3 separate regions of the Homo sapiens genome follow, and all the other regions are linked to region 2. Evidence: fine-mapped expression QTL. A gene starts in region 2. Each other region holds a variant in brackets. All regions are shown on one strand. Distances are from middle to middle. Region 1 has its middle 120 kb from the start of SEC61G-DT. Region 2 holds the start of EGFR (epidermal growth factor receptor). Region 3 overlaps EGFR (epidermal growth factor receptor).

What was found. PIP is the estimated chance that this variant, and not a neighbour inherited with it, causes the effect. A credible set is the group of variants that fine-mapping cannot tell apart.
Region 1: its variant is the best candidate, but not a certain one, in a credible set for the expression of EGFR in prefrontal cortex (CommonMind, PIP 0.56).
Region 3: its variant is the best candidate, but not a certain one, in a credible set for the expression of EGFR in sun-exposed skin (GTEx, PIP 0.71).

Annotation. Positions count from the first base shown.
Region 1 is chr7:54,878,587-54,884,026 of GRCh38, reverse strand. No RefSeq gene overlaps it. Among named protein-coding and RNA genes, the nearest start is that of SEC61G-DT, 120 kb to the right of the region's middle. The variant T/C (reference allele first, on the strand shown) is at 2,464.
Region 2 is chr7:55,016,369-55,021,368 of GRCh38, reverse strand. It overlaps EGFR (epidermal growth factor receptor), which reads right to left and starts at 2,352. Exons shown (of 28, transcript NM_005228.5): 1 at 2,004-2,352. The coding sequence starts at 2,091. LOC105375284 (a long non-coding RNA gene) reads left to right here and starts at 2,447. Exons shown (of 4, transcript XR_007060329.1): 1 at 2,447-4,808. RefSeq lists an enhancer at 678-1,352.
Region 3 is chr7:55,150,091-55,155,540 of GRCh38, reverse strand. It overlaps EGFR (epidermal growth factor receptor), which reads right to left. Exons shown (of 28, transcript NM_005228.5): 5 at 4,179-4,247; 6 at 2,877-2,995; 7 at 1,389-1,530. Among named protein-coding and RNA genes, the nearest start is that of EGFR-AS1, 36 kb to the left of the region's middle. RefSeq lists an enhancer at 2,628-3,436. The variant T/C (reference allele first, on the strand shown) is at 3,057.

The DNA of each region.
Region 1 (5,440 bases), 140 kb after region 2:
TACAGTTGTCAAAAGATGTGTACAAGAATGTTTTATAGGAACGTTATCTTTAATAGACAAATACTAAAAACAAATCAAAATTCCATCAAGATTATAATGAATGAATAAGCTGTGATATATTCATACAATGGAATACTATTCAGTAATTAGGATGAACTAATTATGGCTGCACACAATACAACACCATAAATCTTGCAAACATGATACTGAGAGAAAGAAGCCAGACACAAGAAATGCATACCACATGATGCCATTGTGTAACAAAGTTCAAATGAAGATAAACATAATCTATGATGTTGGAAGTGAGGACAGTGGTTGCCTTTGGAAATGAACACAGGGTACCAATAGTAAGGAGATTAAGAGGAGCATATGGGGTTTGGGATTGTTCTAACTCTTGGTCTGGGTTCTAATTTCACGATAAGTGCCTTTGTGATAATCCTTCCTGCTGTGCACTAACATAATATACTTTCTCAGTGTGTACTATTTTTCATTCAAGGTATTCCTAGGACGGAAAACAAGTCATTTACAGGTTTATGAAATTAAACATTCAAGGTTAGAAGCAGCTTCAAGCTCAGTCAGATCTTGTTACTAAGAAATCTTCATTAAATGTGCAAGTGTAATGCTGGCAGCAATGTTAAGACGCTGACCCAGGGTTTGGCCAAGTGCCTTAAGTTTATTCAGTTGGTTTCCCATCTTGGCCGTCCTTCATCACATCTTTACTTATTATATTCCGTGGGTAATCCCAACTCATCCTAGCCTGTGGTGTTAACTACTGCCTCTGTGTTTAAGCCTGTACACCAAGTATAAATTGAACAATTATAATAATTCCCTCAGTCCTGTCTAGTCAAGGGTGATGTTTTTGTTTCTATGGGAAATAATTTGTTGTATTTCACATAGAATTGCATAACAGATATTGTTTGGTTGATGCGTGGTCTCATGGATTGTAATTTGGTTACAATTAGTTAGCTATTAACTAATGATTACTGATCAATGAAATATACCACCTTCTCCCAGCATGGATTATAGCTATTCCTGCCATCCCTTAAGAATCATTCTTCTAAGCCAACTAATGCCCAAACCATCTTTCCAAGGATGTTTGTCTAGCAAACAGCCAGGCTGTGTGGAAATAGTATCTCTCTGGAGCAAGGGGCAGGCTTGTTTTCTGTGCAGTGTGATAAAGATGATGTCTCCTTTGGGGAAAAGGCAAGTAGGTTTACTTACAGGTCCCTTATAAAAGATGGGGGTTTCCTGAGCTTGGGGTTCTTTGGCTGTGATGTATGCACAACATCACTTGCTTGCCTCTTCATTCCCCTATGGAAATTGCGGGGTGAGGGGATTGAAACAAACACAGAGCTCATGCTGCCTGCTGTGCTGTGAGCAAAAAAAGTTGTCTATGACCTGGGAGTCTTGTATCTCCTGCCAGCATCCGTGAAAATGTGGCAGGCTAACCTGTTTGTCTGCAAGGAGAGTAAAATTTCAGACCTTTTGTCATTCTTGAAAGAGATATACTTGGCTTCATCTAGTGTTGCTACTATGTTTGCAATACAATCCCAAACCTAGATTCTGAGTTTAACAGTATCCTAGACAAGTACCAAGATATAATAGGCCTAAATTGCATAAGTTGGACAATGACCAAACAGCTCTCTTCATTCCCCCTCTGCCTAGGGTGTGGGCTTCACACTATTACCTCCCAAGTAGTCCAGGAGCCTCAGCTTCGATTTGGGGCAAAGAGTCTTGGCCTGTGTTTTTCTGCAGCAGAATAGTCCCTGGAGAGGAGGTTGTGCCAGTTCCCAAACACTGACCAGTGTAACTCAAAATGAAATACTCAATGGCTGATAAGTGATTTGTGTTGATGGTGCTCCCAAAATGGGTAGAATAATAACTCAGCACGGAGTTCTCTTCCATGCACTTCAAGAAATGTTCTTGATCAGCTTCCAACATTGAAGAATGAGGTGTCTCCATTTCCTCTTCCCTATAATCCTCATAGTCTCTGGCCCTGTTTTTTAAACAATCTTTCTCCTTAGGCTTTCATCTAGTCTCTTATACTGAGAAGAAGTGTTACTGTCCAACCATGCATCCAACTCACCACCCTTCGTTTTGGCTCTCATACAACAGACTCACTTCTTGGCCATGTGGCCTGGAGTAGCAGAGTCTGGATACACTGGGGTACATTTGAAAAGATTTAAAGAAAGTTTTTTCAACTTATTTTCCAGTCATATTTGTATTTCCAATCCAGCGTCTTCTTCCGACATTTGGAACCATCTATTCAGCTGTATGATGGACATCTTCACTTGGGTGCCCTCAGGAATCTAAAGCTCAAATGCAGGAGATGCAGCTCCCTGTGTTCACACTCAACACACTCCTCCCCACTTTGTGGACTCTAAACCAGTGATTGACATTCAGGCCTATTCAAAATAGATTGTGTGTCAGCTCTCACTGAAAGAGGGTGATTAGAAATGCTAA[T/C]GTCAAGTTCCCTTTGAATCTTCTGAGTGCAAAAGGGAACTAAACAACAAATGTAGTACTTGGCTTTCAGAACTTTGTCTTAATGAATGAAAATGAAAGACACACACAGTGAATATTTTTCCACTTGGGAGGATTTATGTGTATTTTATTTATCTCAAGTTGCAACTAACAATTTTGATGGTTCTTATTGTAACTCTCCTCAGTGACTATAGTATAAGACAACTCCAATTTTTAGAGGGGAAAAAAAGATTTGCAGTAAGAAACATTGTGTTCACTGCCTCTTACCTCTACTTGTGACTCATACTTAACAACATTAAAAGTAATGTATATTTGCAGGTTTCAGGCAAGGAATAGACTCTATTAGGAATTCCATCCCAAAAATATATTAAGAAATATTTGTACTTATTTGAGTTCTTTCTGTGGATTCTTATTTTGAATATAATTAACATAGTGCAAGCTGAGAGGCCTGTTTGGCATTACTAACACTGGCTGATGGGTATCGTCATTGGTTCTGATAAGATAATTGTTTTAATAAAAAATTGTTTTAAAAAATAAAAGTGCAAAAAAAGTAACTATTTTGCTAACAAAACGTTGTGAATTTTAAAATGTCATATTAAGGTGTGCTGGCCTCAATGGAAGAGTAATAAAACAGCACGAAGTTTAGGGATACATTAGTCAGAAACTCCTTTGACCTTGCCCTTCAGGAACAAACTCATGTCACAGGAAAAAAAAGAGCAAAACGAATTGAATAAAAGCCAAATAACTTAGTCAAATTTTGGTGTTTTTCCTCTTTCCTACTGCTAGAAAAACCACCCTTAAAATTTTGCTAAAATGTAATTAAATAACAGTTGATACCTCTAAGGGAGGAGACCACCCCTCATATTGGCTTATGCCCAATTTCTGCCTCCAAAGAAAGAAGAAGTAAAAACTAAAAGGCAGAAATGAAATCCACAGGCAGACAGCCTGGCGCCGTGCCCTGGGCCTGGTTAAAGATTGACCCCTGACCTAACTGGTTATGTTATCTATAGATTCCAGACATTTTATGGAAAAGCACTGTGAAAATCCCTGTCCTGTTCTGTTCCGTTGTGATTGCCGGTGCATGCAGCCCCCAGTCACATACCCCCTGCTTGCTCAGTTGATCACGACCGTCTCACACAGACCCCCTTAGAGTTATAAGCCCTTAAAGGAGACAGGAATTGCTCACTTGGGGAGCTCGGTTTTTGGAGACGTGAGTCTTGCCGAAGCTCCTGGCCGAATAAAGCCCTTCCTTCTTTAACTCGGTGTCTGAGGGGTTTTGTCTGCTGCTTGTCCTGCTACACCTCTACCTACACTGAGATTTTTTTGCTGCACAGACCTTCAAGCTTCAGAAGTTTACAACAGTATTGGAATAAAAACACAAAAGATATGCCTCTGATGTCATTCTCAACACCAGAGCACCGTCTATTACATTGCTCTCCTGTCTTGTGTCTTATTCCCCAGTATTAAATCCCTTCATTTTTCTCTATGTAATCACTGAAGTGGTCTTTCTAAATGTGGAATTTACTGTATCACTTCTCTACTTATAAACTGCTGTGGCTCTTGATTAGTCATAAGTTAAAGAGCAACTTCTAAGTATGTCATTCAAAGTCATTCACAAGCAAGGCCTAACCTATTTCCAGCCTCATCTCCTGACCCCACCTCCCCCAACACCTGGGCTTCACCATATCCCACAGTTATGCTTTAGTGCCCAGCCTTCCCTGAATCTCCACACCCCCCATGTCAGTTCCGTGGCCCTGTGCTCTCTGGGCCTGGGCTCTGACCTCTCTTCCTCAACTACAGACTATCTATCGCTGAAGATCCTCTAAGGTTCTGCTCAAATGTTACCTCTCAGCCGGGCAGTCCCTCTCACCCCCAAGGAAGAGTAAATTGCTCCATCTCTTAGCCTCCCTTGAAACATTGCATTTCTACTAGCGGGGTGTACACATCACATAACATTGTTGAAATGTGTGAGTTGTCCGTACTATGATTTGTCTATCTCCTGGTATCTCCTAGAAGGAATTTTTGTTTCTCGCTCGCAGGGTGTAAATTTGTTTTTATATAAAAGTTGTGACCAAGTATCTTAATAGCATTTATTGAATATTACCAGACAGAGTTATTCAATCATTGTTCTCTCATTTATTAGGTCTATAATTTGGGTAAATTTCTTTATTTTTCTGAGTATCATGCTTACTCATCTCTATAAATAGAAATGCCAAGATAAATGGGCAAATGGGTGAATCTAGTGGGCCTGGGACTTGAGCAGAAATGACACTTTATGACTTCCAAGGCTAGGTCATAAAAAGTCAGAGTTTCCTCTTTTTCCTGTCTCTGAGGACACATGCCTTGGAAGCCCTTAGGTGACATATAAAAGATCAGCTACCCTGAAGCATGCTAGAGAGACCACATGGGGAGGCCACATAAAGATAGCGATATCCAAGAAGCCCTAGCTACTATAACCTGCAGCGGTTTGAATTTTCCAAGTATAACCCACCAAAAATATGAATGAGTGAGCCCTTAAGTTATTTCAGTTCTAACTTTTGAGTAACCCTAGTCGACATGGAATAAAGCAAGAGTGAACAGTCTCTTTGGCAGAAGTTCTGCCAAATTGCAGATTCATGAGCAGAATGAACATTGTCATAGAGCACTAAGTGTTGTGATTTTTAATACAATCCTCCAAAATTATTATTGCATATGTGTTTTATAATTGAGAGCAATTAATATGCTTCTTTAATTTTGAAATTCTTAGTTTAAAATTATATGATACTGGTAGACAATTTCCAGAATTTTGGCATAATAACCTACATGTACCCTCTCCCTAGTGAAACAACCTAATTGGTGAAACTGAGAAAAGAAACCCAAACATTTTAAATCTTTGGAACTTGTTCTATGGGCATACAGCATAAAAAGAAACATTTATTTAAGAAAATCTACCAAATTTTGCTAAGAACAGTGAAATTTG
Region 2 (5,000 bases):
GTGCTCTGAGGGTTTAATTTAAAATAAAGAGAAGAGTCTCTTCGGCAGAGACAGGGCTGACACCTGACTAACAGGACCGGCAGTCAGCAGTCTCCGGAGCAGGCCCGCGTCTCCCGGGCACCCCAGGCAGGCAGGACGGGCCTGCAGGCTCAGCAGAGAAGAAACCTTTCCACCAGTTCCTTCAATGAAAAGCGGAATCCTTTATTATTGGAATCACACTCTACCTTTTCCCTCTTTCCTATATTTGGCAATATTGTAACAATTCCAGATGTCCTCAAAGAGCTCTTAGCATTGGCAAGTAACATCTCCGGAGACTTTAACAATCCTTCTTCCGTCTAGTGATCCCCAAATCTGGCTGCCCAACAGATCACATGAAGAGCATTAAAAAAAATCCCAAGTCCAGGTCTTGCCCCATGCCAATTAAATCAGAATGTCTGGGGGCGGGAGCCAGACACTGGTTTTTGTTTTGATTTTTTTTTTTTTAATCCCAGGTAATTCCAATGTGCAGCAAGGTCTGGGAACCACTGTTCTATGCCTTGCCCCTCCCCCAACGACCGCGCTGGGCACCAAACCCCAACTCCCCAAGCCAATGACATCAACAGCAAGTACGGGCCTGGCTCTTGGAACCCGCGCAGCTCAAGGTTGGAATTGTGCAATTAAACCTTCCAAGGCATGTTTCCCCTGTCAAGTGGGTTTATGGTCGGTAGTCACGAAGCCAGACTCGCTCATGTTCTGTCTGCACACTTGGCACACTTGAACCAGGGACAGCAATCCGGTGTGTGTGTGTGTGTGTGTGTGTGTGTGTGTGTAAGACAGGTTTAATATTTTGGTTGGCTCAAATTCTTCAAACAGCAAAAAGAGACATCCAAGAAAGAAAGTCTCCGGGTTTTGAGGAGAAGTTTGCTGTGAGCCCCATTTTGAAACACCATGGTGTTGGCCAGGATGAGCTCTGCTTCCGGGGCTTCCGCTCAAGAGTCCCGCGATCCCCCCCTGCAGTGGCCGGACAGCCGCGTCCCGCTCCACCGCGAAGCCCAGGCGCGACCGAAGGGCTGCAGGTGGAGCAGACCCGGACGTCTCCGCGAGGCGGCCATCGAAGGAGAGCCTGGGGCTTTCGGCGCGGGCGCCCAGGAGGGAGCTGGGGTCCCCGGGAGGTGGGGGGCACTCTTGGATAGGCAAGACGAGGGCGCACCGGGCGAGGCGAGCGGCCGGGGTCTGCGCCCAAGGGGCGGGTCGGACCCCACCTGCCTTTTGCCAACGAGGAAACTAACCGCCGCCAGCACCACCCCTCCCCGGGAGCCGCAGGTGGTGGTAGACGAGTTCTCCCAGCTCCCAGGTCGAGGCTGCGACTCCACACTGGGGAACGAGGATCGCGGGGACCTGGAGAGGGGCCGGGGCCAGGCTGGCGGGCGCCGGCTTCAGTTTGAGACCTGCGCGGAGGGCGGAGGCGGGGAGGTCCTCTCAGAAAGCCGCCTGTCCCGCGGGGTCCGAGGGGAGGCTGTATTTTTGGGTTCCTTCCTCAGCTTCCCTAAACAGTGCAGTCTCGGCGGGTGGGCAGCGCCCGCCCCTCGGGTGCGCGCCAGGACCCCGTCGCGCCCTGGGAAGACAGCGCGGGGCGCACGTGCGGGACCCCGGCCCCAGGCGCCCACCAGCACCCGGCTTTCGCCCACTGACGCCGATCCTGCGCAGCTGGGCGGGGAAAGTGAGGGAAGAAAGTTGGGAGCGGTTCGGGGCGCCGGAGGTCCCGGCGGCCGTTCCCCGCCTGGCCTGCAGCCCGGTGTCCCACGCGTCTCCTCCTCCGCCCGCCCCAGACTCTCCCGGCCGAAGAACGAAACGTCCCGTTCCTCCCGCGGTCCCGGTCGGCGGCGCAGCTGATCTCAAGGAAACAGGAAAGGACGGGCGGGGGCGCGGGCGCCGAGCCGGTGCGCCGGTGCGCGGTTGGGCGGGCTGCGGGGTCCGGGGCGCGATCCGGGGGCGGCGCGGGAGCCGGCGAGACACGCCCTTACCTTTCTTTTCCTCCAGAGCCCGACTCGCCGGGCAGAGCGCAGCCAGCAGCGCCAGGAGCGCTGCCCCGGCCGTCCCGGAGGGTCGCATCGCTGCTCCCCGAAGAGCTCGCTCCGGCTCTCCCGATCAATACTGGACGGAGTCAGGGGGCCGTGCGCGGTGGTTGTGGCGTTGGCGGCGAGGCGGGGACTCGGGCGGACGCCGACGAGGTGGCCTGTCGTCCGGTCTGGGCGGCGGCGGCCGCCGGGGCTAGCTCGGGACTCCGGCCGCCTCGGCCGCGTCGGGCGCTCACACCGTGCGGGGGGCGGAGGCTGCTGCGGCCGCGCTGCGCCGGGGGCTGCCCGGACGTCTAGCTCGCGCGGGCCGAGGCGCGGGGAGGCAGGGCGGGAGGAGGAGGGACCAGGCGGCGGAGGAGGGATCGGGAGGAGCAGAGGAGGAGGAGAATGCGAGGAGGAGGGAGGAGAACCAGCAGCGGGGACCCAAGGCCAGCGGCCGCCGGAGGCGGTGGACAGCGGTGGCCCCCGCGGGACCTAGTCTCCGGCGGGAGTGGGGCGGCGCATGGGAGGGGAGCGGGTGCCCTGAGGAGTTAATTTCCGAGAGGGGCGTTCCCAGCACTGCCCCTCTGGACCCGGTCCCCGCGGACTTGCAGGCCCAGCCTATGTCCAGGTCGAGCCAAATCTGTGCCAGGGTCCCCTTCCCCCTTTCCCTTCTTTTGTTTTACAAAGCAAACTTGTACCAGCTTTAGACAGACTGGCCGAGCCTTAGAGCCAGCGTCGGATAATGGCACCGACGGGGAAACTGCTCCTTTATTCGGGTCCCCACCTCCCCTGCAGCACTACGGGACCCTCTCGGGGATCAGAGGCTGGCCTGGCAGCTGAGGAGGTCGCCGTGCCCGCGCGGCAGGGGTGCCAGGCGTCCGAGGTGGTGCTCTAAAGTCCGAGGGTCCTTCAGATCTTGTCAAGCACCCTCGAAATCATCTGAAATGAGGGCACCCAACTCCGGGTGCAGAGACAGGCCTCCTTAATGTTTATTGCAACCAGCCATGGGTACTTTGAAGCCAATGTGTGAAGCACATTACTTCGCAAAAGTGAAGCTCTTGGAATAAAGGCTTGACACAAACAGCCGTGGAGGTGCTTTTAGAGAGGCTAAGTGTCCCACTGCCCCTGTAGCTCCCGCAGGAGAAATGCCAGGGAAACTCGCGGAAGCTTTGGCCAAAAGAAACTGAGCTTTTTTGGGCTGCAGGAACTTGAGCTATATTCCTTTGGCAAGTCCACCCCATCCCCACTGTTCCTTCTCCTGCAGTAAAAATGTCCTCTAGGTCCATGTTACAGCCAGACCCCTCCTCTCTTCACGAGATTCACTAGGACCTTCAGGCCTGGTTCAACAACCCTGATCTCTCGGCTCTGTCAAAAATCACAATCCTGAAGTAAGTGAAGCTACAGACCTGCCCTTTGCTGTCTCTGAAGGGGAGCAACCTTACATCTTTCCTCCTCATCCAGCAAAATGTTTGTGCCTGGGTCTCGCACCCTGCAGCCTGAACGGTGGGGTTTTTCACCAGGGCAAGCGCAGACAGACACAGGTCTGCTCACTGCCCGCACAACCTGGAACTTCCCTGTGAATTAGGAGAAGTAATCTGTTCCTTTGTTTTAACAAATCAGTACAGCCACTGTGCGTTGAAGTCATGCCCTGAATGCAGAGGCCATGAAGGCTCTGCAGGCATGTGTGTGCTTCCTGCACACCTGGGCTGAGAGCAGTCCGTAGAAACACAGAAAACAAAACTAGAGAAAGGCAAATGGGAAGCACAACAGTGGAACATAAAATGAAGACAGGAGTGAGTCTTACAATAAAAGACCTGAATACAATAAAGTCCTGTGCATTCACTTAACAAGGGCTGCAAATTTGGTTTTAAACTATATTTTCTGTCAAGGGAATGTGACCTGTGTGTACAAGTCACAACACAAATCAATTTAAGCTACAACTGATTTGTAAGACTGTACAGGAATTTCTTTGAGTGCCCAAAAAGACAGCATGTAAGAACATCAGTTCTCACTACGTTAGGACTATATGAGACAACAGCCTTCATAGTACGGCTTGTATATTCTTCAATGTGATCTGATAGCATCACAAGAAACAGAGCTTTTTGTAAAGAATTACTAGACACACACATAGCACAATACTGGGATGGATTCCAGGGAACAGAGAAGAATGGGTTTGCTGAACATCTTCATGGGACATCTATGTAAAGTTTGAGTTTCTCCTTTGAGCTTTTGATACAAAAGCTGACATTCACGTTGATTTTGTAGTCCTTGGCTAGTACCTGGAGTGTGCTGATAACTGTGTTACTTGGTAAGTAAAAAACTGTATGGCCGAGCAGGCACTAATGAAGTCCTCTTAAGAGAGATAAGTAGCCTGGCATAGTTAGGGCCCTGCACAGTTAGGGCTCTAGCTCACAGCCTCTGTGGAGGGTGGTCCTAGACCATGGCCCGGACAGAGGCTGGGTGTGTGTGCCACCACCACAGGAATGACAATAGTGGCCCAGTTGCTGTGTTAAGCATTGGTCAGACTAAGCTTATCTGATAACCTGTGAGCTGGTTAATACTTGTATCTGCCTTTTATAGCAATGTGATGCTGTGGCCGGGAGAAGTGACCAGGATACCAAGGTATACTTGCTAGTATGAGAGGCCAACTTTGAATCCAAGGCAGAGCCGTGTTTTACCCCTCTTGTCCAGCAACGCTTCAAAACCTGAGACAAATGGTGATGTCAGGACCTAAAATTCTATTTCATAATGTCTTGGAAATTTGTTAGGGTGAGTAATACCAAAATTTCTGCTTGGCCAAAAAAATTATAGATAAAGCCTTCATGTATGCTATATTAGCAAGTATGTACTAAGACTCTAGTATTTCCCTTAATAAATCTCATAAGCGTCTGTCAATTTTAATAACACAGATGGTTCCATCCCTTTGCCAGCTGTACATGAGAAACTTTTTTCCTCTGATGA
Region 3 (5,450 bases), 130 kb before region 2:
CTCCTCCACCTGCTCTCACCTTTAAAGTAATTCATTTGTATTAATAGCAGACTTCTGCGTTATTTTTAGGAGCTCTATGTCTTCCTTTTTTGTTTGTCTGAGATGGAGTCTTGCTCTGTCACCCAGGCTGGAGTGCAGTGGTGTGATCTCAGCTCACTGCAACCTCCGCCTCCTGGGTTAAAGCAATTCTCCTGCCTCAGCCTCCTGAGCGGCTGTGATTACAGGCGTGCGCCACCACGCCCGGCTAATTTTTGTATTTTTAGTAGAGACGAGGTTTCACCCTGTTGGCCAGGCTGGTCCCAAACTCCTGACCTCAGACAATCCAGCCCCTTCAGTCTCCCAAAGTGCTGGGATTAAAGGCATGAGCCAATGAGCCACTGTGCCTGGCCTGTTCCTGTTTTAAGTTCCCCAAGAAGATCCTCAAAAATATTTATAGGACATTGATGATTCTTCTGTGAACCATCTGCTCTTGGTATCTCAGGCTCGAAGTGTTTTCCTATGGATTTTAAAGCTCTGTTAAGCCCTATCTCAAAGATATATCTGTGTCATCACTGTGGCACATTTTTCTTTAGCTTTGTTTGTCATTTACCTTATAATGGCTTATTATTTTGTGTTTTTTTTTTCCATACGGAATGTAAAATTTTTCATGTACACAAATCTGGCAGGGTAAAATCTCCCCCTCATAATTGTTCTTTCAATTTTTTTTCTCAGTTAATCTCCCCTTCTAGAGATCAAGAGTGGCTTCTAAAACTCTTTCATTAGACAAAGTTTTGCTTTCTCTGTCAGGAATTATTTTATGTCACAATTTCCCTAAACCCTGGAGCCACCAGTACAAATGTAAGTACAAACAAGCAAAACTCAAACCCAAACCATTAAAACAAAACAAAATAAAAACAAAAACAAAACCTCTGCAATACTCCTAAGAGGCATAACTTTCACTAGAATTTTAACCACTCAAGAAGGCAGGTCTTCTGATAGACTCTCTGATTTCGGTGTATTAAATACCTGCTTGGCACAAGCACTAAACAGTGGCATGCCCACGGCTTTGTGCCCAGCAGACAACTGAATACCCACGGCTGTGGCTGCTGGATGAGTGGTGAGGGCTGAGCAGCAGGTGTTTCTCCTGTGAGGTGGCCTGGCCACCCAGATCTGCCCTGTGCACTGAGCAGCCCCCATGGGTGGAGATGGCCACCACCTGCCCGCTCCTCGGTAGCAAGCCAGCCCCTCCCCTCGCCTGTGTGCCTGGACGGGCACAGGGTCGCCTCCTCCAAGCAAGGCAAACACATCCACCCAAAGACTCTCCAAGATGGGATACTCCAGGGCTCAGCAGGAGACAGAGCGGGACAAGGATGCCTGACCAGTTAGAGGGCCCACAGAGGAGGACTCACGGGGACACTTCTTCACGCAGGTGGCACCAAAGCTGTATTTGCCCTCGGGGTTCACATCCATCTGGTACGTGGTGGGGTTGTAGAGCATGAGTGGGGGGCAGGTGTCCTTGCACGTGGCTTCGTCTCGGAATTTGCGGCAGACCTATGGAGGAGAGAGGACACGCTGGGCAAGTGAGGTAAGTACACTCAGCGCCACACACGGAGGAAGCGCAGCACGGTGTTGACTCCCGTCAGAAAGCCCAAGTTACTGTCTTTGCAGCCTAGTGTTCCACTAGTGTGGGAAAACCCAGCTGGCGCCCTCTGCAGAGTCAGAAAGACCCTTCTCTAAAAAGTCCATTTTTTTCTTAGGTGCACTGTCCCACCTATCATAATTTATGGATTATGATAAAAATACGTCTGTTTACTAACGTATAGATGATGGAGTTCACACATTATAGCGGTGACTATGGAATGAAATTATGTTTAATTTCCCTTATAAAGGACATTGGGCTTCCCTTATAAAGTACAATTGAGGGTATATTTTATAATGTATTGCTGAATGGCAGAAAGCCTTGCTAGAACAATGCCGTGTAAAGGAGCCAGACCCAATACAGCGAGGGCTTTTCCTAGGACCAACCCCACGCACAGTCTTCTCCCTGGGGCTCACATTAGAAACAGCTCAGGCCAACCAAGTCACAATTCCTGGGTCTGGGTCCAAACTCTGGAATTTAGGAATCTTCTCTGAAACCACAGAGTGCTCTGGATTTAGTCTTAGGAAGGGCTTCGTCACACCAGCTCCCACTCCAGGAGTCACATCCACCAGCCTTGGCGTCTCCAGGACTTCCAAGACGCTTCTGACCTGTACCCTCCAGTGCTGCTCAGAGCCCGCTGGGGCAGCAAGGCTTCTGCTGGCACTTTCTGGAGCAATGGGGCGACAGTGAGTACTTCAGGACCCCTTGAGGGCAGGGTGCAGCTCAGGAGGTGCCTGAGCAGTGGTGGAGGAGCCGAGGGATCCGTGTCAGGAGGCCCTAACCCAGCCCCAGCCAGCAAGACCTGTGTGGCTCTCCATGGGTCTCTTAGGGACCTCACAGTGTCAAGTCTCTAGAGGTATAGCCGAAGTCAAACAATAAAGAGAGTGTGCTGCTGGCAACAAGGCACATTCATGACAAATACTTGCATGTAGTATTTAGTGCTTGTTCTGTGCCCAGGTCCTAATGACGGACATCACAGGCATCTCATCATTTAAGCATTCAACTGGGAGAGACTTTGTTATGCATCATTGTCAGGTAAGGAAATGGAGGCATGGTAGTCCCATCATTTTCCCAAGGTCTCAGTGAGTGGTGGAGGCAGGATACTAAAGATACTTTGTCACCAGGCAGAGGGCAATATCCTGTCTGTTATGACAAATGCTAATTGACAGCTCCCCCACAGGAAGTCTTCTGTCCTGGTGTGGGTGGGGCGGGTGCAGCCCCAGCCTGCTCCAGGGAGGCTGCTGGAGGGGCATCTTACCAGGCAGTCGCTCTCCCGGGGGCCTGTGCAGCCTGCAGCACACTGGTTGTGGCAGCAGTCACTGGGGGACTTGCCACGGCAGCGCCCGGAGCACTGCTGGGCACAGATGATTTTGGTCACTGAAAAAGAGCAAAGGTTCCCTGTGAGCTGAAGAGTGAGGGTAGGATCATTTCCCAGGGA[T/C]GTCGCAGAGCACTTGCAGACTTTTTCATGAAAAAGTGAAGACACATTTGCTTCCAACGAAACCACATTCAAACTAAGTCAAACCATGCCCTTTTCTGATTGCCTCTTTTTTCTCCTGATTTATTTTTAATCACTTAAGAGAACTCATGAGATCAAGTCTAGACTTTGAGACCTGCTAAATAATTAGATGCATCTTGGGCAATGCAGAAAGCACATACAAAGAACAAAAATACCTGCTGGGAAGTAGTGTTTAGAAGGGCCTAACAGCCCCCCCACAATTCAGCTTAAGGACATAGTGTCCGTTTTTGAGCTCATGTCCCCAGGTTCCTTGGCCACTGAGAGGCTGAGCCAGACAACCATACCTAGGAGAATGGCCCTCTCCATCGTAAAGCAGGGTCCACATGGAAAAGTCCCCATGAGAACCCGTGCTCAGGCTTCTGTGTAGGTGGGTACCAAAGAAAGCCAGGGAGGGAGAGGAAACAAGAAGTCTGGTGACTGCTGTCAACAGGAGCAAGTCTTCCATTCCTGGGAAAGTGTGCTGTGTTCAGAGGACAGGGCTGGGGTACTTGCTGATGTTCACTTATTGTTGTTGTTGTTGTTGTTGTTGTTTTGAGACGGAGTCTCGCTCTGTCGCCCAGGCTGGAATGCAGTGGCACAATCTCGGCTCACTGCAAGCTCCGCCTCCCAGGTTCATGCCATTCTCCTGCCTCAGCCTCCCGAGTAGCTGGGACTACAGGCGCCCGCCACCACGCCCGGCTAATTTTTTGTATTTTTAGTAGAGACGAGGTTTCACTGTGTTAACCAGAATGGCTCGATCTCCTGACCTCGTGATCCGACCGCCTCCGCCTCCCAAAGTGCTGGGATTATAGGGGTGAGCCACCGCGCCCAGCCCCTGCTGATGTTCACTTATTTGTGATAGGCTGAAGCTCCCAAAATAGCCCACCCTGGATTAACTGCATGCGGTGAGATTTGCAAGACTGTCCTTCACCTACTGGTTCACATCTGACCCTGTAATAAAGTAACTCTTTGGAGTCTTCAGAGGGAAAACAAATCCAATCACCTAAGCAAGTGAAGGAAGAGAGGGGCGGTCACACATGGGTCTGAGGCTGTTCACTGACTTACGTTTCTGGCAGTTCTCCTCTCCTGCACCCCAGCAGCTCCCATTGGGACAGCTTGGATCACACTTTTGGCCTGAAATGTAAAAGTAATAGATGCATATCTCAGTGAAATGATGAGAAACTGATGACGCCCTTTCCCGGGCCTGAGTTAAGCACATTCAATAAATGAAGACAATCTTTTCAACTTATTCTCTGATTGTTTGGCTGGCTGGTTTGTAGAATCACTTGAGACCCCGATAAGAAAAGAAGATGAACCATGAACTGCTTTTATTTACATGTCAGCTGCGGAAACTGAGGCAGAGAGTAATTACTGACATGGGCCACATAAGCAAGAATTTTTCATGAATTTGAGGTTCCTTGTTTACAATCTGCTTAGGCTTGGAGCATTCCCTGGCATCTCCTGCCACAGCTAGAGTGTCTCGTCTGGCTGAGCCTTTGGCATGGACCCACTACTTCCTTGCTGTGTCCAGTCTTGAGTGACTGCATGTGTCAGCCGTTCTGGGATTGTTAAGTCATAGCCTGTAAATAAAACCTTCTAGACTCCAAACCAGAGAGAAGCACAGAATGGTGCACAGAGGGTGAAATGTTAACAGTGCAGATCACTTTCATGACTGTGTAAAACCTTAGCTATCTGGTCAATTTTTGCAGTTTTTATAATTGGCCGATTACAAATTATAGCTGCAAAGGTTTTCCTGTCATCTGTCGTGTTTTCTTTTTATCAGTATTGAGAAGTCTGAAGGTCGAAGTGCTATATCTATATAGAAAGAGTAGGTTAACCACCAAATTTGTTAAAGAGTCCAGTCATGCAGATATCTTTTACTGTGAAGACATAGTAAACTAGAGGTGTTCATGGGTCCCGAGGTCCCCTGCAGTCAGGAAGAATTTAGATTTCAAACAGAAAAGCTGACGATTGATCTCCCATGTGACTGTGAAGCCAGAATACCACCAAGGCAAAGGGCGCTAATTGCCGCGCTGGTGCTCCTTAGAGACATGAAGGCCGGGGAGGCTGGCATCACGACAGTGACCGCGGGGGATGGACGTTGTGAGGAGGTAGGCAGAGAGACTGCAACAGAGGTCTAGAGAAAGCAAGGTCCTACGCAGGCGTGCTAAAAGCAGCTAGATCTGTAGCGTGCAATCCCATTCTTTCAACTTTTTACCCTGTACTCACATATAATTTTCAAATTTCTATTATAAGCTTGTAATCATTGTATAAAATAAAAATATTTAAAAGAAAAATGCATCTTTTTCTAACGGGAAACATTTGCCAATAAACAAA